Homo sapiens: one gene and its partners. The protein of the gene in region 4 purifies or fractionates together with the protein of the main gene of each other region. This does not show direct contact. Each region holds a gene or a part of one and is shown on either strand. Other genes may lie near its edges. The genes, in order: KSR1, KRABD3, C15orf39, PRMT2, SETD5, SETD1A and ERF.

The links.
Region 1: the proteins of PRMT2 (region 4) and KSR1 purify together in Homo sapiens (affinity purification with mass spectrometry; 3 studies listed by BioGRID and IntAct, with this or other methods). This does not show direct contact.
Region 2: the proteins of PRMT2 (region 4) and KRABD3 purify together in Homo sapiens (affinity purification with mass spectrometry; 3 studies listed by BioGRID and IntAct, with this or other methods). This does not show direct contact.
Region 3: the proteins of PRMT2 (region 4) and C15orf39 purify together in Homo sapiens (affinity purification with mass spectrometry; 3 studies listed by BioGRID and IntAct, with this or other methods). This does not show direct contact.
Region 5: the proteins of PRMT2 (region 4) and SETD5 purify together in Homo sapiens (affinity purification with mass spectrometry; 3 studies listed by BioGRID and IntAct, with this or other methods). This does not show direct contact.
Region 6: the proteins of PRMT2 (region 4) and SETD1A purify together in Homo sapiens (affinity purification with mass spectrometry; 3 studies listed by BioGRID and IntAct, with this or other methods). This does not show direct contact.
Region 7: the proteins of PRMT2 (region 4) and ERF purify together in Homo sapiens (affinity purification with mass spectrometry; 3 studies listed by BioGRID and IntAct, with this or other methods). This does not show direct contact.

What each region holds. Positions count from the first base shown.
Region 1 is NC_000017.11:27,599,448-27,602,947, reverse strand, and holds part of KSR1 (kinase suppressor of Ras 1), read right to left. Parts: intron 2,363-3,500; coding exon of another isoform or gene 2,205-2,362; exon of another isoform or gene 1,725-2,204; intron 1,719-1,724; coding exon of another isoform or gene 1,612-1,718; exon of another isoform or gene 1,595-1,611; intron 1,589-1,594; coding exon 1,547-1,588; intron 1,056-1,546; coding exon of another isoform or gene 990-1,055; intron 1-989.
Region 2 is NC_000007.14:149,728,451-149,731,950, reverse strand, and holds part of KRABD3 (protein KRBA1), read right to left. Parts: intron 3,429-3,500; coding exon 3,276-3,428; intron 2,764-3,275; coding exon 2,581-2,763; intron 2,464-2,580; coding exon of another isoform or gene 2,423-2,463; exon of another isoform or gene 2,200-2,422; intron 1,805-2,199; coding exon 1,610-1,804; intron 1,524-1,609; coding exon 1,383-1,523; exon of another isoform or gene 1,238-1,382; intron 280-1,237; coding exon 175-279; intron 1-174.
Region 3 is NC_000015.10:75,208,382-75,211,881, reverse strand, and holds part of C15orf39 (uncharacterized protein C15orf39), read right to left. Parts: coding exon 3,058-3,500; intron 1,134-3,057; coding exon 766-1,133; 3' UTR 1-765.
Region 4 is NC_000021.9:46,652,674-46,656,173, reverse strand, and holds part of PRMT2 (protein arginine N-methyltransferase 2), read right to left. Parts: exon of another isoform or gene 3,330-3,500; coding exon of another isoform or gene 3,120-3,329; exon of another isoform or gene 1,077-3,119; intron 1-1,076. UniProt on the Homo sapiens protein: Arginine methyltransferase that methylates the guanidino nitrogens of arginyl residues in proteins such as STAT3, FBL, histone H4. Acts as a coactivator (with NCOA2) of the androgen receptor (AR)-mediated transactivation.
Region 5 is NC_000003.12:9,400,615-9,404,114, reverse strand, and holds part of SETD5 (histone-lysine N-methyltransferase SETD5), read right to left. Parts: intron 1-3,500.
Region 6 is NC_000016.10:30,967,754-30,971,253, reverse strand, and holds part of SETD1A (histone-lysine N-methyltransferase SETD1A), read right to left. Parts: intron 1,950-3,500; coding exon 1,792-1,949; intron 1,653-1,791; coding exon 1,565-1,652; intron 1-1,564. UniProt on the Homo sapiens protein: Histone methyltransferase that catalyzes methyl group transfer from S-adenosyl-L-methionine to the epsilon-amino group of 'Lys-4' of histone H3 (H3K4) via a non-processive mechanism.
Region 7 is NC_000019.10:42,249,599-42,252,128, forward strand, and holds part of ERF (ETS domain-containing transcription factor ERF), read right to left. Parts: intron 1,843-2,530; exon of another isoform or gene 1,791-1,842; intron 1,567-1,790; exon of another isoform or gene 1,348-1,566; intron 968-1,347; coding exon 733-967; intron 345-732; coding exon 229-344; intron 141-228; coding exon 1-140. UniProt on the Homo sapiens protein: Potent transcriptional repressor that binds to the H1 element of the Ets2 promoter. May regulate other genes involved in cellular proliferation.

The DNA of each region.
Region 1 (3,500 bases), on a different chromosome or scaffold from region 4:
CTCGACCTTCTTCTAGGGCTTTCTTCTGCCTTTGAAGGTCATCTGAACCACAGGCTGTCAACATCTCTGGGACCTCACAGACTTGGAGAATCTGATAGAGGCCGTGGGCCTTCTTATCAGGGAAATGCACACATGTGCCCAACATCCTGTGCACAATTTCTGGGGGATCAGAACCTTAGAAGCCTCTACCGGTAAGGCCTCCCCCGGACACAGTGTGTCTGCAGACTACCAGCAGGGGCCTGGCATTTCCACCCATCCCACACTGCTCAAATGTTCCAAAGGAGGCAAACACACACCTAAAGCATGAGGGAAGTAGTAAGAGTTGGGGTGTGGTTTCTCCCCAAACCCCAGATGGGAAGGCAAAATGCCTCTCTGAATCCTCATGCTTTTGCTTAAAAGTTAAGAGTGTATCATGCATTCTGCTCCAAAATGTGTCCACGTTTGCTTTAATAAAAATGTATTTCCTTGCCCTCCCTGTGACATATCTTCGGGGGAAAATGGACCCTTCTGGGAGAAGAGCCATATCTTCCCAATGTTTTGGGGTAATTCCCTGCGTGCATCCTAGAGCTAGTAACCAGGGGAACCACAACAAAAAACCGGTGTGAAACTGCAGAGGCTGCTCAGCTGTTCAGAGGGAGCCTCCGGGAGGCGGGTTCTCAGGGCCCTGACTGCTGCCCTGCACACACCTGAGCAACGCCATATGGATGGTCCTCTAAGGACTCACAGATGCTCCAAGTCAACCCCCTAATGGAGCTGGCTTAGGGAATAGAAAAGCCTGGAGTAACCAAAATACTGTGACTTCAAGACAGTCCTGTTCAATCCAAAAAAAAAACAGCTACAGTCTTTGTTTTAAACACCATTATGCTCATCACCTTCAGTTACAGTAAAAAGCACTGATCTCAAGCACTTTAGGGGCAGGAATGAAAAGGTTGGTACATAGTAAGTGTAGAAAACAACTTTTGCAGAAGGGACTCAATGTATTGACTTACTGAAAGCGTTTTCCTTTAAACTTTCTGCAATAAGGAGGCATTTCCAGCAATGGCCAGCAGATGGCACTGTGTGGTAAGGCACAGAAGGGTGAAGCCCACTAAGAGAAGCCCGCAGACCTTCCCAAATGGGTTTCTACTTCTCTAAGACATTGTGCATAAGATATCCTCCCATCATTGTGCAAGGGAGGATACGGTGACATATGCTCATAAGGCATTAGCAAAAAGTCCTCTCCCCATTCTATAAACCCAGATTCTAGTCCTTCTGCCATCTCCTAGCAGTGTGACCTTGAAAAGGTTGCCTGCAGTCTCTGTGCCAAGAGGCTGGATGGGATGGATTCCAGGGTCCCTCCCAGCAAGAACTTCTCACGTAAGAGGCCTACCACCAGGGCACTTGCCCTGCCCTCTTCCCATCCTCTATGGGCAGTCAGCTCTCAGAACAGGTGGAGGGAGACTCAAGTATCTCCAAAGGTACCCAGAGAGAGGGCGCCCTGCCCAGGTGGGCAGGACAGAAGGGGTCACAGCAAAGGGCAGTTAATGGAACCATGCAAAGGACTCACCTGGAAAGATAAACTGCTGTCTATGATGAATGAAGTAGGCAGCTTTAAACAGAAGAGGAGGTGAGTCACACACACAGAACGGCCAACGCAGGAGGGAGGAGCGGAATTGCAGGTACCGGCTTGGGAGGCAGGGACTTGTTACTGGGCTGGGACAGCCCTACCCCAGATGGACCTGGCAAGGACAGGCCAAACCATGCAGGAAGGAGGAAAAGAGCTGGGAGAAAATGGGCCCTGGCAGGAGTCTGCAGGACTAAAGGGGCTTGCACTGGAGGATTGGGCATTCCAAGACCCCGTCTCCGGTCACCAGCACTCTGTGAAATGCATGTGAGCCCAGAAGGGCAAAATACAATGGGAGAGAAACAGTGATTCTGAAAAGTTTAACAGTGTTATGTACGGAAGAATGGCCTCCTCCCCCTGAGCCCCACCTGTACCTCCAGAGTGTCTCAACCTTACCACTCCCTACCCACATTTTTTTCTCTCTCTCTCATAGGTGACTGAAAAGGATACACTGGGGTTCTGGAAGCTGACAGCATGTTCCAACCTCAATTCTGCCACATAACTAGGCTCTGGGACCTTAGGGAGTTGGCTAACCTCTCCAGCTGTCTCACTGTCAAATGGGGGTGTAAATACAGTCATGTGCCACAGAATGTTGTTTTGGTCAACAAGGGACCACATACATGACGGTGGCCCTAATTATAATGGAGTGGGAAAATTCCTCTTGCCTAGTGATGTGGTAGCTGTGGTAACAGGGCAGCACCATGCATTCCTCACGTGTCTGTGGTGACGCTGGCGGGAAATAATCCACGGAACTACAAGCTGTATAAAAGGATGGCACGCACGATTATGCACGGTAGCATCTTACTTGATAATGAGAATAAACAACTGTATTACTGGTTTATGTATTTACTATATTGTACTTTTAATCATTTTTAAAATTTTTTTTATTTATATATTTATTTTTTGAGACAGAGTCCTGCTCTGTTGTCCAGGCTGGAATGCAATGGCACAATCTCAGCTCACTGCAACCTCTGCTTCCTGGGTTCAAGCGATTCTCCTGCCTCAGCCTCCCAAATAGCTGGGATTACAGGCACCCAGCCCACCACCATGCCTGGCTAATTTTTGTATTTTTAGTAGAGACGGGGTTTCACTATGTTGGCCAGGCTGGTCTTGAACTCCTGATCTCAGGTGATCCGCCCACCTTGGCCTCCCAAAGTGCTGGGATTACAGGCGTGAGCCACCACATCCAGTCTTTTAATCATGATTTTAGAGTATACTTGTTCTACTTACCAAAAAAAAAAAAAAAAAAAAAAAGTTATCTGTAAACTAGCCTCAGGCAGGTCCTTCAGGAGGTATCCAGAAGGTGGCACTGTTATCACAGGAGATGCCAGCTCCATGTATGTCACTGCCCCGAAGACCTTCCGGTGGGACAAGATGTGGAGGTGGAAGACAGTGATATTGATGATCCTGAGGCTGCACAGGCCTAGGCTAGCGTGTGTGTCTTAGTTAACAAAAAAGTTTAAAAAGTAAAAGAAAAAATAAGGATTTTAAAAATAGAAAAAAGCTTATAAAAATTCAAAAAAAAAGTTTTTGTACAGCTATACAATATGTTTGTTTTGGGCTAAGTGTTATTACAAAAGAGTCCAAGTTAAAAAAAATGTTTAAAGATTATAATGTAAAAAAGTTGTAAGCTAAGGTTAATTTATTATTGAGGAGAATATTTTAAAATAAATTTAGTATAGCCTAAGTGTTTAGTGTTTATAAAGTCTACAATAGTGTACAGGAATTCTTCCAGAGCAGCTTCCAGTCCCCTACAAATAAAGAACAATTGACTGATTGACTGATTTAGAGACAGAGTCTTGCTCTGTCACCCAGGCTGGAGTGCAGTGGTGCAATCTCAGCTCACTGCAACCTCCACATCCTGGGTTCAAGCGATTCTCATGCCTCAGCCTCCTGA
Region 2 (3,500 bases), on a different chromosome or scaffold from region 4:
AAATCCCAACTGCTTCTGTGATAAAACACTGAAAGGAAATATGCAACCTGAAGTGCATTACAGGTGAGACTTCCTACCCATCACTCAAACACTGACCCTGGAAGGCTGTTTTCCCCAAGCTGGGGCTCTGGGTCCTGGCCCGTGCAGAGGGAATGGGGGAAGCCACCAGTTCACCTGCAACTCTGGGTCTTCCATGTCCAAGCTCCAGGCCTCTGGATGCTTCACTAACCCTGGGCCTTTTCTCCAGCTGAGAAACCGGGCAGGGATCCTGAGCTGTACCTATAGAAAGAGCACAGAGACCTTGGGGCAGGGAGACGATCGTTTGGCCAGAGCCATTCTGACATACCCTAAAACAATATCAAACTCTCAACTTTTAAACAATGATTAAATGAGATAGAAGACGGAAACTTGGCCCATGAGGGAGCCTAATTCTGGTGGCAGGGCCCGCCGCGGTGCGTGTGTGTGTGGTGTTCCTGCCCTGTATGCAGGGGGCTCCGGCAGGAGGAGGCGGCTGGGGAGGCAGCTGGGAAAAAGGACTCTCATCTGCGGGTCCTGCCCCAGTGAGACTTCCAAGGGCGTGCTGGGGCATCCTGTGGTCCACACCCAGCCCACTCTGCCATTTTCCACTAGGCCCACTGCGGAGTGAAGAATGTGGTGCAGCCTGGGTCTACACAGACCAGGGCCAATGCCTGTAAATGGAGCCAGCTGCAGGAGTTGGGGAGAGCTCCCTCCCCTGACCATTTCTGGCCTCTTCCTCCTTCTCCCCTGCTTCTCCCTCCTTCTACCACTGCTTCTCCCTCCTCGTCCTCGTCCTCCAGCACTCCTGAGGGGGCCAGGACAGCAGGTACTCTCTAAACTCTCTTTTCTCCCAGGCAACTGGGACCTGTCTCCTGTCCCATCTGCTTTTTCTGCTAGGAGCAAACAGTGGGTCACAGTGAGATTGAGAAGCAAGGTGGCCTGGGGCAATAGGCAGCATTCTAGCTTTCCTAATGGGACACTCTCCAAGAAGTACCCCCAGCTGGGGAAATCTCACTTTTGAGACTTTTGTTATTGATTGCCAAGTTTTAAAAGCATACGCTATTATTGTATAAATACATCCACATCTGTCTACATGCACACGTGTATATTAGCAAGCGCAAACACCGTGTACGTGGCATCAAGTGAGTGGCTCAGACCTCCCTGCAGCTGCTCACCAGCACCCCCAGCAGCCCCGCCCTCCTTCTCGGACACAGCTCACCTTACAGGGAACTAAAGCACGGCCAATGTGCAGGACTCCCTGGCAAGAGCCAGGCAAAGCGACAGGCAGGACTCAAAGGATCCAGTCTGGACTCCTGGTCCTCTGGGGAACGCATGGGCGCCCCCTCAGGAGACCCCAGGCTCACCTGCACCGAGGCCGCTGCAGTACCTGGGCTCTGTTCTCCTGGGGTCTTCACCAGGGCTGCCGCCACTGCTGCCAGCAGGGGTCCCACCAGGACATGGGGACAGAGGGACAGGAGGCTTACAGCTGGGAAGGCGGTCCCTCTCTAACGTCACAAACAAAGCTGGCATCAGAGTGGTGACTGGCGCCCTGGCACACATCCCGCTATCCTCCCTCTCCGCACAGGCTCACCCTGGGGGAGCGGCTTCCAGAGATCAGGCTCTGGCCTCGGGTCTTCTCCTTCAGAGCCGCTGAAGCTCGAGCTGGAGCCGGGGCTGGGGCTGGGGCTGGGGCCTCCCACGCAGGCGAAGCGCAAGGGCCTTACAGGCAAGATCCCCCTCAGGGCGCTCTCCAGGCAGTGCAGCGGGGAGGGCTTGGGGGCAGACCCTGGGCAGGGGACCAGAGAGTGCTCTGTCATCAGCCTGAAGAGAGCCAGGTCTCTGCCTTAGTGTCTGGGCACACAGAACCGGTCCCCTTTTCAGCTCAGCCCACGATCAGCATGCGTTCTAGTGGACCCTAAATGGCTGCCTCTCTTGCCAGAGAAAGAGGACAAAAGTGAAGCCAGAGCCTGGCCAGGACCCCAGCAGCTTTGGAAAGTCTGCTGGGGAACTTTCTGGAAGTCTCCAGTCCTTGGAAGCCATTAGCAGTCAGGTTCTAGCCAGGCCTAGGTCTCACAGGCCAGGCGGCTTCTCCCACCAGGCAGGTGCCATCCCTGCACCCCAGTATCTCACAGGGGCCAGCAGCCCAAGGGTGGGGCTCAGTTAGGGCCCATCCTCGTCTGATGGGAGGGTCAGCAAAACCGCATTTATTCAGCAAAGGCATCCCAGCAGGCCCTGCAGCAGATCTAGGAAGGAATTCTGCTGGAAGTTAAACCAAGCAGCAGCAGTGGACGGCGGGAGCCCCCTCAAGAAGCTTCTCCACTGGAGAAACCCAATGGATGGACACAAACAATGATCTTCCCGACCCCGCTCCTTGTCAGCACTTTGTGACACTTTATCTTCTTGTTTAGCGAACCTCAGTTTCTGTTTGGCACCAGCTTCTGTCCTCTGGGGAAAGGATGAGAGATGGGGAAGAAACAGAGGGACAGAGAGGGAAGTCTATTTCCTTGTCAAACACTTTAACTGAAGTGGGGCTGTCAGTACCGAGGGCAGGTGCCAGCTCACCCTCTGGGAGCCACCTCCACACTCCTGGCCTGGTGGCCCCAGGGTCTTTGAACCCCCGCTGGTGGCAGGCGGGGACGCAGCTGGAGGTGAACACCTGTGGGCTGACCAGATGGAGGCTCCGGGTGGGCGCTTCTCCCCTACCCTGCCCGAGACGGGCTGACTCGCAGGCCTCAGCCCTCAGTCCTGTTTTAATGAGAAATCAGAAGGCCTGTCAGCCCCACGGGGCCTCGTGCTGCCACAGAAGAAGGGACAGGGAACAGTTTCTGCCATTGCTGGGCTCTCAGGCACACCAGCATCAGGTGTGGGAAACACCCATCTGTCATGTTCCAGGGAGCGCCTGAACCCTCCAGAACATCTCTATTCCCAGACCCAGCTGCGTGGACCCCTGGGCTTGGAGACTGGTGCCCAGACACCAAGGCTCGTGGGGCTGGCACGGCCGGGACAAGGACACCCAGCCACAAGGAGCCAGCTCCAGCTGGGATGGTGGAACCGCAGACAGTGGCACTAAGGTGCCAGCAGGTCTACACGTGTGTGCTGCAGACTATCTGGCTTTCTGGCCTCCAACAAGGCTCTGCCCAGGTCTGTTTCCAGAGCACCATGTTGGCTCAGGAGCAGATCTGAGCCCACAGGTGCAGCGCCTAGGGCATCCTCAGAGCAGCCCTGTCTACACCCAGGGCCCCGGCAGCCACTATTACCTTCCTTGTCTGCTGTCCAGTTCCTGGGCTCTGCTCTCCTCGGTCCCCTGTCTGCTGCTGAGGAGCAGGGCCAGGCAGGCCGCAGCACAGGCACAGGTATCTCCTTGAGACAATTCTCCAGACCCTGCAGTGGGGAGCTTCCTGGTGGGCTTCCTGTGAAGATCAAACATTCACAGATGAGGGGGACTGTAGCTCAATCTCTGCAAACTGCAGAAGCCCCCTGTC
Region 3 (3,500 bases), on a different chromosome or scaffold from region 4:
ATGCCAGGGGTGGGGGAGGCAGTTCAGGGAAGCACTGATGTCAATTCAGGACAGGCCTGGGGCCTCCTGGGGTGGCGGCAGCAGCAGGCCCAGAACAAGGACGCCAGCTCCAGGCTGCATCCCTGCACCAGTAGCGGGGATTGGGAGCAGGGAGTGCAGGCTCCCTCAGGGAGCTCCAGGCTGGAGTAGGGCCAACCCAACCCCAAATGCTGGGGGGTGACTCCTGAAAGTGTGAGTCACATCCACTGCCTAAGGTACCACTCTACGATAGCCAAGTCCTAGGACACACGAAGACTTTCTATAGGAAGGTTCTCTGCCTCCAATTCTAGGCCCTGTCCCAGAGAGGAAGCAGAGACCAAATGGTGACAGGGTATGTATCAGGCAGCATCCCCACAACAACCCTGTGAGGTAGGTTGCGTTGTCCCATTTTACACATGGGGAATGAGGGCTCAGCAGAGGTGAAGTTTCTTGCCCAGGTCCTGCAGCAAGAACACGAGCCGGGATTCAAGCCCAGGTCTGTCGGGCTCCAAAGCCCATGTGTGTTCTCTAGGCAAGAAATAGGGAGTAGTCCTATCCAATAAAGACCCTCACGTTAAAAGCTCAGGGGCTCTTCAGCCCACCCTGAATGGGCCACAGGGTCAGAGATGGAACCCCTCCAGGGGAGCAGCCACAGCCCCAGCATCCACTCGTGGCCCCGGGGCAGCTGGGCAGGCAGAAGGGAAGGGTGGAGAGTGACTGCTATACACACAGCACTGGCAACCAGTGCTACAGGTGATGGCTCTGGCTGTCCAGCAGCTGTGGGCAGGGTGAGGGCTGGTCTGGTCTTGAGGACTTGTGGCCCCAGGTGGGCAGAGCCAGGCCATTGAGCCAGGCGGTCTCCAGCAGACTGCGGAAGCGGGCCTTCAGTGTGGGGCCAGGTGGGCTGGCACTGGTAGCAGGGGTAGGGGAGGCACCACAGGACTCTTCCCCAGCAGCTGCCTCTGCTTTCTCCGGGCCAGGGGTTGGTGGCTTCCTGCCTGGCTTCCTGACCTTGGGGGCCGGTGACTTCTGAGCCAGGGCTAGGCTCTCTGGCTCACCTCTGGCCACAGTGGGCTCTGAGGAGGACACAGCTCCAGCCTCAGTGTCAAAGTCACCTGGAAAACGAACACATAGTCAGCCTGCAGACCCCATACCCTCAGGTCCCACCTCCTGGCTTCCAAAGCCATCCAAACAGTGCTTCTGCTCTGCCCCAAGTCAGGCTGGCATCACAACTCTTCCCCACACATGCCCACTGGCCAGACCATCCAAGCAAAAAAGATGTGCTTCTCCCCAGGTGACACCAGAACTCTATCTGATGAGGGCACCACTCAGGAGAGGCTGTTTGGGTACAAGGATGAGAGCAAAGGGGCTCAGCAGGTCAGGAACCATTGGCCTGGTCCAATACCCATTGCTCAGATGGAAAACTGAGGCATGGGAACAGAGGACCCTGCCATATATAAGACAGCCATCATGTTTCTGCCATACCAGCCCCAGAGACCAAGCCCAAGCCCGAGGCCGAGCCCAGGTAGGGACTGTCCTAAGAGCCATGCTGGGGGAGCACAGGAACCCACCCACAACAAAGGAAGGCAGGGATAACTGTCTAGGGGCACACAGAGAAAAACGGCCCCCAAGGTGGGAGGGAGTGAGGACAGGGGCAACAAAATTCAGCCAGAAGCCAGAAGCCTGGTCTCAATCACTTGCTTCCCAGGCCCCCCGATTGTTGCAAGCTCCAGTCAGAGCACCTCGGACTGTGTGGAGTGCCCAGACTCCACTGCTGATCAGGCAGCCCAGGAGAAACAGACCTGACCCTCTCTGGGCCCCAGACAGCCCAACTGTATGGGGAGAGGACTGAGCTGGGCAGCCCAGCCCTGAGTGATGTGGGACCCTCACTCAGTAACAGATCGCCTGAGTCTGGATTTCCTTTGCATCCCATTAAGGCATCTGCTCCAATTTTGTAAGTACTCAGGGATCAGGGATTCTGGTCAGCCAGCCCCTAAGCTCATCTGCACCTCACTGCCACAGGCCCTTCCCCATCCCAACCAGGTAAGGGCCCGGGGCAAGGCTGCCACTACGGGGATGGAACTAGGAACAGTTTCTACAGGGAAGAGGCTGGGCAGTGGAAATGGGAGAGGGTGGAATTGGGGGCAGCAGGGAGAGAAAAACTAGAGGGGGCCTCAGGCTGCAATGCCAGGTGTACTGACGCAGGAGGGGCAATAACAGAATCCACTTGGTCCCATCACCAGATCCCTAGCTGAAGAAGTGTGATCATACACGCCACACAACACTTCGGCAGTTGTGTGGTCCTCCAGGACATTAAAAGAAAACAAGCTGGAGAACAGCAGGCACATCATTTAGTAGAGGAAAAGCAAACCACAAAACAATGCGACTTATGCGCACACTTCTGTGTATGTAAGGGCCGGGGAGGACTGCAAAACTACACGTTCAAAAAGGCAGCTGTGGCCCTCACCAGGTCTAGAGCATGAGGAGCTTTGTGAAAGGGGGTGCCCTTCACTGACATGGAAAAGAACTGGTTGTGGGAAGTGAGCTGAGGGGAAGGCTCGGGAGTGTGATTTGGGATGAGTTCAGTGTGGGAGAGAGACCCAGGGGCTGAGGCCCAGCATGCAGTGGGTTATTTAGGGCTAGAGCTCACAAAGGGGATGCTAGGCTGGAGATCAGGGAAATTATCTCAGCTAGAAAACAGGGCCTAACCAGAGTGCCGGAAACACTGCACCAAAGATGGAGAAGGCACAGGCAGAGGAGGAGGGAATCCAAGAAGGTGCAGCACCAGGGGAGGCCGAGGAGTTTCCATGGGGACAGAGCAGCTGGCATGTTCAGAAGCCTACAAAAGAGGCTATGAAGGTGCTCACTGATTGTCTGGAGGGTCAAGGGGTGGGGGTACCTAGAGCTCATCCTAAAGCCCCCTACCCGGGCAGGAGTCCTTGGAATCACTCAGCCCCAGCTGTGACGCACTCACACAGCACACACACCTGTCACTTGCTCACACAGCTCCGGTGGCCACTGGGGCTGCCCCATGCTCACCCAGCTGGCGGCGTACACAGTCGCGCCACTGCAGGCCGAGAAGGTCGGGGTAAATGTCCGGCAGCTGGCGCAGCGCCAGTAACTTCAGCATGCGTGAGGTGCAGCCTGGCAGGGCGAGCTCCCGCAGTGCCCGCTCCTCCGACAGCGTGGTGGGCCGCAGCTCCACACGATGCTCCTGCAGCACATGGTCCACAGAAGCGGGTGGCAGCCGAGGGAAGAGCCGCTCCTTCACCAGGTGAATGGGCACGAAGATGGCGCCAGCTCGCACCACATGGGGGAAGGGGCACCGGTGGGTGCGATCGAAGCGCTGCAGCTGAGACAGCAGCTTGGCCAGCAGCCCCTGCACACCCTGGCAGTCCTGCCACGCAGCCTGGCCCCAGGGCCCAGCCGTCTCTAGCCACTCGCGAAGCTTCTCTGGAGGAGAGTGGGCGACGGAGCCAGAA
Region 4 (3,500 bases):
TGCCAGGCTCTTTTTCACAACCAGCTCTTGTTGGGACCTGAAAGAGCTAGAACTCACTTATCTACCCACGAGGAAGGGCATTCATCTATTCATGAGGGATCCACACCCATGACCCAAACACCTCCCACTAGGCCCCACCTCCCAACACCACCACACTGAGGATCAAATTTCAACATGAGATTTGGTGGGGACAAACCATAGCACTAGTTCCTTTACATTCCATATACATTTCATAATGAGCTTATCTATAAGAACAAATCCTGCTTGGATTCTAATTGGAATTTTATTAAGTCTACAGATCAATTTAAAAAGAACATACGTCTTTACTAGGTTGAGCCTTCTTATCTCTCCATTTATTTAGGTTTTCTGGGGTTTCTTTCATTATCATCTCATCATTTTCAGCATCCAGATCACATTTTGTTAGATTTCTAAGCCTTTCATATTTTTGAAGCTACTGTGATATTCTTTAATTTCTAATTGTACATTGCTAAGATATAAAAATGACTTCTGTATGATGACCTTGCACTCTGTGATCTTGTTAAACTCACTTACTAGTTTTAGGAAATTTTCTCATAGACTCCTTAGGATTTTCTGTAGGTTTTTTTGTAGATGTCCTATGTCATGTTAAATTTCCTTCCCTTTCTAGTTTGCTGAGAATTTTATCATGAACTGATGTTGAATTTTGTCAATTTTTTTCTGTATTGATATAATCATGATTTTTCTTCTTCAGACTGTTAATATGGTAGATTACACTGATTGATTTTCAAATATTGAACCAGCCTTGCATTCCAAGGATAGTTTCTTTTTTTGTTATGGTGTATTATTATTCCTTTTATATCCTGCTGGTTTAAATTTGCTAATGTTTTCTTGAGGATTTTTACATTTATGTTCATGAGGGTTATTGGTCTGTAGGTTTCATATTTTGTGTTAACATTGGTTTTGGTATTAGGGCAATGCTTACCTCATATAATGAGTGAGGAAGTGTTCCCTCTTCTTTTCTGAAAGTTGTTTAGAACTGGAGTTTTTTCTTCATTAAATGTGTTGATAGAATTCACCAGTGAAATCATTTAGGGTAGAGATTTACCTTTCAGAAGGTTTTTAAACTATTAATTCAATATCTTTACTAGTTATTGGACCATTCAGGTTATCTATTTCATGTTAGATGAACTGTGGTAATTTGCAGTTTTCAAAAGAATTGGTCCATTTCATGGACCTTCTTTGCTTCTCACTCTATGTATGTACACTCTATGTACATACATAGAGGGAGAAGAAAGAAAATGATAACTCAAGACTGTTTCAGGAATACAGTTGTTTCTTGGTGTCTATGGGGAACTTGTTCCAGGACCCCCGTGGATATTCAAATCCTTGGATGCTAAAGTCCCCCATATAAAATAACGTGGTTTTTACATACAGGCTACACACATCCTCCGACAGACTTTAAATCATCTCTAGATTACTTCTACCTAATACAATGTCAGTGTTATGTAAGTAGCTGCTATACTGTATTGGTGTGTTATTTGTATTGATGTTTATTGTTGTATTGTTATTTTTATTTTCTGATATTTTCAATACATGTAGGTTGTATCTACAGATGTGGAGCCCACAGATACTTGACCGTACTTCAAATTCTTGTCTTCTTCACCAGTCGATTGCTACTATGTCTTTGTTCCAGAGTCCTCAAATAGTTTCTCCCTGTCTACTCTCCAGGATTTATAGCTGCATTCAGTGGGAGACATGAAAGGAGTATGCCTTCTCCATCTTATCTGGAACTGAAGCTAGGTTACCACTATGTCTAATTTTTAAACACAAAATTGGAATCATACTGTACATACTCTGTACTTTTTTTAAAAACTAGCAACATGTCACCAACTTTTTCCAAAGACTGTTAAAAATCTTTCTAAAACATAATTTTTAATGATCATATGTATTGCTACAATTCTGTTGTTTCCAATTTTCTCCCCATTTTAAACGGTGCTGCCATGAACATTTTTTAACATAAATTTCTGTACAAATTTGATTATTTCCTTAGGATAATTTCATCAAAAAAATTTGGTGCCTGGTCTCTGGGTCCAGCTGCTGGGAAGGAGGACACTGCAGTCTCAGCACCCACCAGCTCCTCCTCCTTCCTCCTCCCCCGAGGTGAATGTGCCCTCAGAAGTGCAAGCTGCTGATTAACTATGCTGCATTTTTTATGACGTGAAAGTTCGGAAATGCTCCACGCCAAAAAAAAAAAAAAACAAGAAAAGAAAAAAGGCTGTCATTTTTTGTCCCAGTGCAGACAAAGTGCATTGTTGTAGAAGGAGGTGAAGAGACCTTGGTTGGAGATGTCTAAGTGTAGCCATAAGCGGTCCTTCAAGCATGTGGTGGCAATGTTTCCTGAAAAAGATGTCTCTGTACTTTGTATGAGGCAAGCTTTAAAACCAAGGAATCCAGAAGAGTTGATGGTTTTGTGTGTGTGCGTGTGGGCACCAGAACTAGCACCTCTGAAAAGTAAAATGATCTACATGAGCTCCAGGGAATGCAACCAAAAAGAAATATCAAGGCATAAAACATGAACATCAAGCAAAGGGGCCAGAAGTCCTCCCTTAGGCCTGTCCCACTGGGAAGCCAGGCGGCCTTGGTTGTGGCCTCTGCAGGGTGCCCTGTGTAGATCGTCCTTCAGTGCCACAAACTGAAAGTGCCCGTGTTTACGCTTATCCTCTTGTTGTGTAAATAAAGCAAATACATTTAGGCCAGAGTCTTGCTGAGGGGGAGCTGTCCCATCATCTACACCACACATTCTATAAATATGTGCAAACAGCCTTAAATACATCCGAAGTCTGAAGTGTTATTGGTATGAAATTAAATTCTTACTGGCCACGTGCCTGTTTTCATGAGCTGACTTATAAAGACTTTCGTTAAGCTCAGGATTTGTGATAATACAGTCAATAAAACAGTACAAGGCTGTGTGAAGAGAATTATTACATCTTTGTTAACCTCAGCAGTTACTTTGTTTCTTTTGCTTAGAAAATTCGTCATAATGTGGTTGTAATTTTGGTCCAAATTCTTTATTCTTCCTTGAGCTAAAGAGAATAACGGAATATAATATGTCCTCATCACATATTGACAGCACGAATACACTAACAACAGTAAGACTGAGTCTGGCAGTCTTTTAATTCTACCAAATGTGCAATGGAGATCCTCAGTGACCTTGCAAAGCGTCCTGAAAGGTCCAGGAGGCAGCCCCTGCACCTGCAGTGCCACTGGCTAGTGGGAGACTGCTGAGTGTGCAACCTGCTTCTCGGAAATCGTGGCGTGGCCTCAGGAGAACAAGCAAGATCCTGTAACAACTAATGATAACGCAAATTAGGGCTCAATTGTCACCTGCTTTGTTAACAAAAATGATTAAATGGTCTGTTGACAATCTAGGACACCTGTGGTATCTTTACTTGCGTCTCCTTCAGAACTTTGCTGCTTCTGGAAAAACAAAAAAATTTTAATGCTCTTTGACTTATTCTGCC
Region 5 (3,500 bases), on a different chromosome or scaffold from region 4:
CCTCAACCCAAGCAACAAATGTGCTCTTGGAAAACTGTTCAAACCAATTATTTCTAAAAATTAAAGTCTTTTAAAATATATTAAGCATTTTGAAAAACCTTGTCATATATTCCTTCATAAAAGAGAAATCCTATCACAATTCAAATAATTGCCAGCTAATTTGCCTATAAATGAAATTCTTTATTTTTAAAAAAAGAACTGACGCAAAACATTTATTTTAAAAGTAACTAAAAATGTTGTTCAGAACACCGATCCTTTAACATTTTAATGAAAACTTCAATAGGGACCCAAATTTCAAAATATTTCATTATGATTTTGGTTTAAAGGACCAGATAACCAACAGATCTTTTCCAACTCTATGATTCATACTAAGTCTTAATAAACTGGATGCAACTATCCCACTTGTATGCGAGCTGAACACAAATGTATCAAAAGAGGTTGCCTAAACTAAAAGGTGGGGGAGGGAGTAATCTCCAGGAAATATCAGGTTCTCCAGGAACTAAGGATGAGGCTGAAATTAAAAAGTAGCCTTTCTTCAGTTAGCATTTTACATATGGCAACCCAACACATGAAAGCTGTAATGTGCTACCTATCTTAATGAAATAAAATTGTAGACAACTACGAGCAACTATTTCATAAAGGGAAACAAATTATTCTACATGTTCAGGTCCAATCCCAACCCAAATAAACACATTGTATTACAATGTGTTTTTATTCAGATAGAGTATTCTTTTCCATTTCTTAATGAGAATTCAGCTCTAGAACGGGTCTCCTCGGGAGGTGACTTGCACCTAGGAGGGTGCAGAGTGTGGGATTTATTTTATTTTAACCTATACAGAGCTTTATTTATTTTTTTATTTTTCCTTGGCGAGAATGGATCCCTACAAGATATTCTGAAATGTATCAAATTTGGGGTTAATAGTATGTGGTTGGCAAAAATTCAATGCTTGAGTGGGAACTAAAAATGATTTCTTTAATTGTATGCCAAACTGAATAATCTCCCAGGGAAAAGAACCTCCTCCTCTTGCCTTTCCTACCTCCTGCCCCTCCCCCACCAACATTGCCTCCCTGCTGTGCAAAGAGCCCTTTGTCCTGCCCCGCACTTATCTAGCTGTTTGGCCATATTGACAGGCCTACTGGAGGCATAATAAGGGAGTCAGTCTGACATAAGCAGCTGGCAATTTGAAACAAAAATCTTCCTTTTCTACTTAGACCAAATCCTGCTGCAGAGGTCTCTGGCTCCTCCCATGCTTCCATCTATTTCTCAAACAGAGCAGCAAGAAATTCAGCATTTTCCCCTCCATTAGGTAGCACAAATCAAAAACTTGATTCCCCAGACAGAAATCTATTTTGTATACATTCCTATAGCTACCGCTTTTTGTGATTCATAACATAGGCCAAAAGTATACATGTAACTAACATGGCTAAGGCAATGCTTCTCATTACTTCATACTGCCATGAAAGCTGTGGGAATCCTTATACCACAACGAACCCATAAGAACACAGAAGAGAAAGCAGCAGCCCAACCAAAGCAACAGACATGAGCATCAGGCAAAACTGGCCTGATGTAAAAACTTAAGTGTTTTAAAAATACTAAGACATTACTCCAAGAAGCAGAAAATTCCTTTCCCTGTCTTCATATCAAACATACTTAATGTGACCTTACATTAAGTAAGGTATTCCCTCAGGTACTCAGCAAACAAAATCAATATGATGGTATAAACGAATGAGGCACGATGCGATTACAAATTCCTTGCTCAGTGAGGGCACATATAAAGCAGACTGAGCTTACCTTCATTGTTTATTTTATCCCATAGTTCCCTTCGCTAAGTATTAAAGACAGAATGCATTTTGTCCCAGGGTAGGGGAATTCTCTCCAATGTAATGCTTTCTAACAGCACCTCCCCCCAAAGTTACTGGGTATCTTTTACGCAATTCATAATTAAAGATACAATAAAACAGTTTTCCTAAGACTTATTTAACAAAATGTATATAGACAAGTGAAGGAAACTATATTCTCTCCACCTTTCATGAACTTCCCAGAATCCCACCCACAAGATAAATCAATCATTTTGCCACATATTTTGGAATTTTTGGCAGTAAGGAATGGTACCAATCCCTGCCCATCACGGGTACACTACATTACTTTCTAAAGAGTGCCTTTGAAAGAATACTTTAAATTACAAATGACTACCAGTTATATCACTAAATATACGATGCACATTTTGCAAAGTTTGATGCCTCAAACAAAATATACTGGTCAAGAAGTTTCAGTTTTCAACACTTGAAATACAATTTTTATAAATAAAATTCACTGCTAGACCTTCTGACTTCAAATTAAACTGATGAATCACCAGAGTTCAGCCAAAAATTATTTTTAAAATTTTATTTTATTCATGATCCAGTTCCCCTCTGATAAAATGTATCCAATAGTCATTGACTGCTGTTAACTATGGCCTAATTTTTCATAAGTTATTTCAACATGGAGAGGATAAAGCAAAAGTAATTATCTGCAAATCTGTACTTTGCACTTTATTATTTCCCCATTCAAAGGTAAAAATGAAATAGTCATTCTCCCCAGAAAAGCCAGAATAATTTCAGAAAGTCAGTTCCTGGACACAAAACAGTATCAAAAGATATAAAAAAGTTTTCAAGGGTATAACTTAAGTAAATCCTTCTATGAAAAGGGCCTGTATGATCCTCTAAAAAATGATAATATCAAGAGCACAAAAGGTTCCAAACAACAGGAAATTCGAGTGTAAAAGCAATTATTTTATATAGCAACTTAAGCCACAGAGTAAAAAACTACAAACATTTTTATCTTAAACCCTAAGTATGTCAAACAGCCAGTATACATGAAATCATATTTATCTGCTATTGCATCTTATCTATGTGATAGTAATAAGAATTGGAACCTCCTAAAATAGTATCCATTAAAGGTTCTGTTTCATTGGTCTGCTTTTATTACTGGGAAAACAATGTGAGCCACATTTGTGAATGACAAAACTCATTTCCATTCTTTTTGGTTCTCTGCCACAAATGCCAGAGTGATACTACAAATTATAGATGTTTGTGAGATTTAAGTACATTTACACGAAAATGAACAAATCAAAATTCTGAGAGAAAAAAGTATAGGATACACGAGTCTTGGGGAAGAAAAACAGCACACAGGAATATGTCCAGTATTGCATATAATTGGTGGTGGTGGTTCTCCTTCAAGTTTTTCCACGCTCAGACTGTTTTGCTTAATCAGAGATCATCCTAATGTTCAGGAGTTGTGGGGGAGGGGAGATCACCTAAGGGGCTCAGAGGCCATCTTCTCAGTATCCTGAACTAGACTTATTCGATTTCTGCATATTTCTTCTGGTCTGTCCTACATTTCAGATGGATTATGGCCAAAGACATATATTTGTGATGTCAGAAGGCTATATCCAACATGTATATAATGAATCAATCTTATAAGTCAAACTCCAAAGAAAATATCTAATCTGGAGAAGTTT
Region 6 (3,500 bases), on a different chromosome or scaffold from region 4:
CAAGGAGCTGCATAAGCAAACCATTTTCACTGTGAGATAAACATCAGCATGCGGGGAGGATGGCAAAGGAAGCCCCAGACTCTGTCTGAAGAGGCCCGAAAAGGAAAGCATCCCAGGGGACAAGCTGAACTCAAGGACAAGGAGTCCACCACACAGACATGGGGACTGCACAGGGATGTCGGAAGCAAGAGGAAGTGGAGGCTTGGAGACTGGGAAGCAGGCTGCTCTGGCACTCAAACCTTCCTAAAGTGGGTCTCAGGACCCAGTCTGGACGAAGGATTGGGTGAAAAAGGATTCTGGGCTGAAAAGGTTAAAAAACACGACAGGCTCTATATTCTGAGACTGCTCATGTACGGGAAGGACTCGAAAAAACTGAAGAATTTCACAGTTTTTGAGGAACAGAATTGGATAAGTTAGACTAGAAGGTGGTGGCAGCTGGGGAGCGGACTGGAGGAGGGCGAGATGGAGCTGAACAGAGCAGGGCCAGGAGATAAACGGCCCATGGTGTTGGCCTGGGGGGACACCCTGTGGAGAACAAGTTGCCAGGAAGGACCTTATGGAGGGAAGTCACAGGGTCAGGAGTGCATTTTAGGAAAGAGATTCTATAAGCAGTTTGGAAAATGGACTGGAACAGAGGGAGAAGGACAGAAAGAGAGACAGGGAAATCAGTCAAGACTGCTGCAAGAGGCTGCGTGCAGTGGCTCACAGGTGAAAGCCTAGCACTTTGGGAGGCCGAGGTGGGTGGATCACTTGAGGTCATGAGTTTGGGACCAGCCTGGCCAACATGGTAAAACCCCATCTCTGCTAAAAATACAAAAATTAGCCAGGTGTGGTGGCTCACACCTGTAATCCCAGCGCTTTGGGAGGCTGAGGCAGGAAAATCGCTGGAACCAGGGAGGCGGAGGTTGCAGTGAGCCAAGATCACATCACTGCACTCCAGCCTGGGTGACAAAGCGAGACTCTGTCTCAAAAAAAAAAAAAAAAAATCTGGGTGTGGTGGCTCACGCCTGTAATCCCAGCACTTCCAGAGGCTGAGGTGGGTGGATCGCCTGAGCTCAGGAGTTCAAGACCAGTCTGGCCAACATAGTGAAACCCTGTCTCTACTAAAAATACAAAAAATTAGCTGGGGGTGGTGGTGGGTGCCTGTAATCCCAGCTACAACGGAGGCTGAGGCAGGAGAATCTCTTGAACTCAGGAGGCGGAGGTTGCAGTGAGCCGAGATTGCGCCATTGCACTCCAGCCTGGGCGACAAGAGCGAAACTCTCTCAAAACAACAACAACAACAACAACAAAAAACAAAACAAAAAAAGCGTTCTGCCAGGCTGTCCTTTTGGACAGCTATGTCTCAGCAGAAGAGGGAGCAGGAGGGAGCATTTTGAGCACTGAGCTTATTGCTGTCAAGGGGCCAAGGGTTCCTAAGAATGTGGCCCAAACAGATGCCCTTGCAGAAGGCAAAGGTGACCCACAAGCCCAGCAGGAAGGTCATGTGGGCTCAGAAAAGGGCTAGCCAGGCAGCCGAACCCCTCCTCCGAGCCCAAAGTCGATTTCACTGTCTTGTGCTCACCATCCGACACCTCTGTCTCCTTCTTTGTGGTATCCACAGCTTCCTCTCGATCTTCATCTTCCTCATCTTCCTCGTCATCCTCCTCATCCTTAAGAAAAAAGACAAATGAGGACTAACAGGAAGGGGACAACTGGTCCTACACCAGGCACAGCTGCCTGGGCTCCAACCACAAAGATGCTGGCTATGGGAAGTAGGCTTCGGCCAGGAGCCGGCGCCCGGGCCCTCACCTTCTCCGAGGAGGACTCCTGGGATGCCTCCTCCCCTTCGCTGTCCAGAGCAAAGGACTTGCGGTGCTTGCCCTGGGTCTTGCCTCGCTCTTCGTCCCGCTTCGGGGGCTTGGTCCCCGGACGTCCTGGCTCTCCAGCCTCCTTCTCTTGTTCAGGGTCTAGGCCAGCAGAGTGGTAGTTGGGGAAATTTACCATCAACCACAAGATACTTGCCCTGTGCAAGGGGCTTTACATATACTATTACCAATCTTCCTGATGGTCTTCATTTCACAGATGAGAATTTGGAAGCTCACCAGAGGAACTCAAACACCTCAGTTACCTCATGTTTCATAGTTTTGTATTTGTTTTTGTTTTTGGGACGGGGTCTTGCTCTGTCACTCAGGCTGGGGTGCAGTGGCATGACCACAGCTCACTGCAGCCTCAACCTGCTGGGCTCAAGCGATCCTCCTGCCTCGGTCTCCTGAGTAACTGGGACTATACAGGGGCATGCAATCATACCCAGCTAATTTTTAAAAATTTTTGTAGAGACAGGGTCTACCTATGTTGCTCAGGCTGGTATTGAACTCCTGGGTTCAAGTGATCCTCCTGCCTCAGCCTCCTGGAGTGCTGGGATTATAGGCGTGAGCCATCGTGCCTGGCATATATATATATATTTTTTTTTTTGAGACGGAGTCTCGCTTTGTCGCCAGGCTGGAGTGCAGTGGCACAATCTCAGCTCACAGCAGCCTCTGCCTCCCGGGTTCAAGCAATTCTCCTGCCTCAGTCTCCCAAGTAGCTGGGACTATAGGCACCCGCCACCACGCCTGGCTAATTTTTCTATTGTTAGTAGAGACGGGGTTTCACCATGTTGGCCAGGATGGTCTCGATCTCTTGACCTTGTGATCCACCCGCCTCGGCCTCCCAAAGTGCTGGGATTACAGGTGAGCTCCACCCTGCCTGGCCTTAATATATACAGATACGCATATGTGTGTGTATATATATATGTGTGTGTGTATATATTTGTGTGTATATACATATGTGTGTGTACATATATATATATATATGTATTTTTTTTTTTTTTGAGACACAGTCTCGTGCTATCACCCAGGCTGAAGTGCAGTGGCATAATCTTGGCTCACTGTAACCTCCACCTCCTGGGTTCAAGTGATTCTCGTGCCTCTGCCTCCCAAGTAGCTGGGATTACAGGTGAACACCACCATGCCTGGCTGTTTTGTATTTTTAGTAGAGACAGGGTTGTGCCATGTTGGCCTGGCTGGTCTTGAACTTCTGACCTCAGGTGATCCTCCTGCCTCAGCCTCTGGAAGTGCTGGGATTACAGTCAGGAGCCACTGCGCCCAGCCCACACAGTTTTAAATATGTCCTGTCCATTTGATCTTGTATCATTTTCTGGTCGGGTGGAAGAGGGAGCTGACTTGTTATGCCTGGCCCAAGAAAAGAGTATGAAGGCCAGTGGGTCTCCAGGGAAGCAGATCTGACTCAATGGGCAAGTTTCCAGGCCATGGTAGCTATCAAGCAAGGGCTCAAACTCAGGCAAACTAGGAGGAAGGTGGTAGGAGGGCATTAGCATCAGGTGGGAAACTTGGGGAGATGCCTCGTTTAACTCGGAATTCTGTGATTCCAGACACTGAATTTCATGGATGGAAAAACCCAAAATACAGAAAATGTAAATCAGCAGACCAGAGGAAGACCTGCAACTACAATCCGGGGAT
Region 7 (2,530 bases), on a different chromosome or scaffold from region 4:
GGAAGATGAAGATGAAGAGCAGGCTGGTGGTGAGCGGGGGTCCTCGGTGGGGGACAGCACCTCGGAGGGCGTTGAGGGAGGGAAGCGGAAGTGGCTACCACCCGACGGCACTGGCGGGGCACTCTGGGGCACTGCACCCCCTGGCAGAAGGGAGACAGTGTCAAGGCCCCTGGCCTAGCCTGAAGGGGCATGTAGACCCTCTCCACACCAACCATCCCTGGTACTCACCAGCCAACCCCACATCAATGAATGGGTAATTGACCAGCACCAGTTTGTTGAAATTGAACTTGTAGGTGAACCGTTTCCCCTTGGTCTTGTGCAGAATGCGCTTGTTATAGTAATAGCTGTGGGTACAGAAATGCCATTGGGAAGGTCAGGTACGTGGGACCCAGGTCTAGACTCCACACCTTAACACGCACTTAGGTGTGGTTCCCAAAGGCCAACTGAGGAACGTAGGCCACAAAAGACAAATCAAGTGCCCAGAGGGTGGGTACCAGCTCTCTCCTCACATCTAAGGCAGGACTAGAGGATCCACTGGTGACTGTAATCTCTCCTCAGGATACGTCTGTGTTACCAAGGGGCTCAGGGAAGGGCTGGGAGTGGCCCAAGGTCACACAGCTAGGATTTGGCAAAGCCAGGGGTCAGACCCAATGCTTGTTCCCACAGGCAAGGGGCTGTGCAACCCCGGGGGGGCACTCCACATGTGCTCAGGGGTCCCCAGCCCGTCCTCACCGCAGGGCCCGGCTCAGCTTGTCGTAATTCATCTGGGGCTTGCACTTGCGAACGCCCCACAGCCGGGCCACCTCATCAGGGTCTTTGATGACGAATTCCCCGTAGTCCCCCTGCCAGGCAATGACGCCCTGGTACTCCTCCTTCCGCAGCAGCTCCAGGATAAAGTGCCACAGCTGGATCTGCCTTGAGCCAGGGGACGACTCTGGCTTGTAGGCCCAATCCGGGAAGGCAAACCCTGGGGACGGGAGGCAGGGAGTGGCCTGGGGTCAGGCTGCCAAGTCCAGGGCTCTGGGTCCCATCCCAGGGTCCACCTCTGCCCTGCCTTCAACATGGGGAAATCTGTCTCACCTCAGCCAAGTCAAGATCTGATTTAAGAGAAGACAGTGCGTGTCTGTCTGTCTGCATGTGAGGGGCTAGACAGGAGCTGGGGGGGAGGGGAAGCTGGAGCCCGCTCCAGCGACACCGGGAGAAACAGGAAACCGTCGGCGGTGGGTCCCGGGGCCAGTGCCAGGGGGCCAGGCACCAAGCCAGGCTGGCGGGCAGGGCTGCCAGTGGGGGAGGGGCAGGAAGGGGCACACGTGGCCAGCCGGGTTGGGGTACAGCCCCCCAGCTTACCCCCACTCCCATTCAGAGCCAGTTGCACCACCCCAGCTCCTCGGATGTCCTCCTTAGAAACATGCACTGTCTCCTCCGAAGACCCAACAGAGCCCCTACTCCCAACCCCAAGACCTGAGAGGAAGATTTTTTTTTTTTTTCTTAAAAGGACCAGGAGGGGTGGGGTGACTCGGTTGCCGATGAGGTCAGCGCTTGCACACACAGAGGCTTCTGTCTTCCCTGGAGAGTGAAACCCAGACTGTCTGAGAGGCCCCCCAAGCCCTGGACCCTCTGAGCTACACTGCCCTCCCCAGACCCAGGCATCCAGGCCCCACCTGGCTGGAGGGCCCAGCCCAGGCCTGGAGCTTGAGCAGGCACCCTGGAGCTGTCACCCTCTTCCCACTTCTGCCTTCTCATCTTCAGCTCCTTCCCTGCCCACCTGCCTGCCCACCCCCAGCATTAACCTTGGGTAGAGGTTGGCGGTGGGCTGGCTGGTCTCTGGAGGGGGTGGGCAGCCTGGGGTGGGGGGTGGGGGGTGGGGGGACTGCGGTTGTTGTCATTTCCCAACAACAGGGGCCATCAATAATTCAGCACCAGGCAGCCGGTAATGGAGGGGTGGGAGGAGGGAAAGGGGAGGAAGGGAAGGAGTGGGGAGGCAGAGCAGGGTCCCTGGTGCCACTAGAGAGAGAAGGCCAAGGTGGCCAGCTAAAGATGGGCGGCTCCCAAATCCAGTCAGGCTGCAGGGGTCAATCCGCCTCCCTTGGCCCCAGCTCAAACAGGTACCAACAAGGCCTCCAGGCAACACATCCACCCTCAAAGACTCCACCCAAGTCTGGAATCCAACAAGGGATCCTTCCCCTTGGGAATCCAGGGAATCAGTAGTTCCTGCTCCCACAGGGACCACCCCCTCCAAATCCAGAGCTCACTGTAGGCCCCCAACTCCTGCCCAGACTGGGCTGCAGTACCACATAGCCCCCGGAGTCCCTGCCCCATTCAGATATATCCCAGCCTTCCACCAGCCCCTCAGGGTGCCAGGGATATGACCTCCAGCTGTTCACAGACCAGCACCAACAGCCCCTGTTCCATTTAAAAGTGACAGCCTTTGACAACCCCTTCCAGAGACCCCAGAGCACCATCGCTCTCTTGGGAATCTAGGTGTTCAACCCATTATCCTCACCCTTCTAGAGAATCCAGATCACAAGGT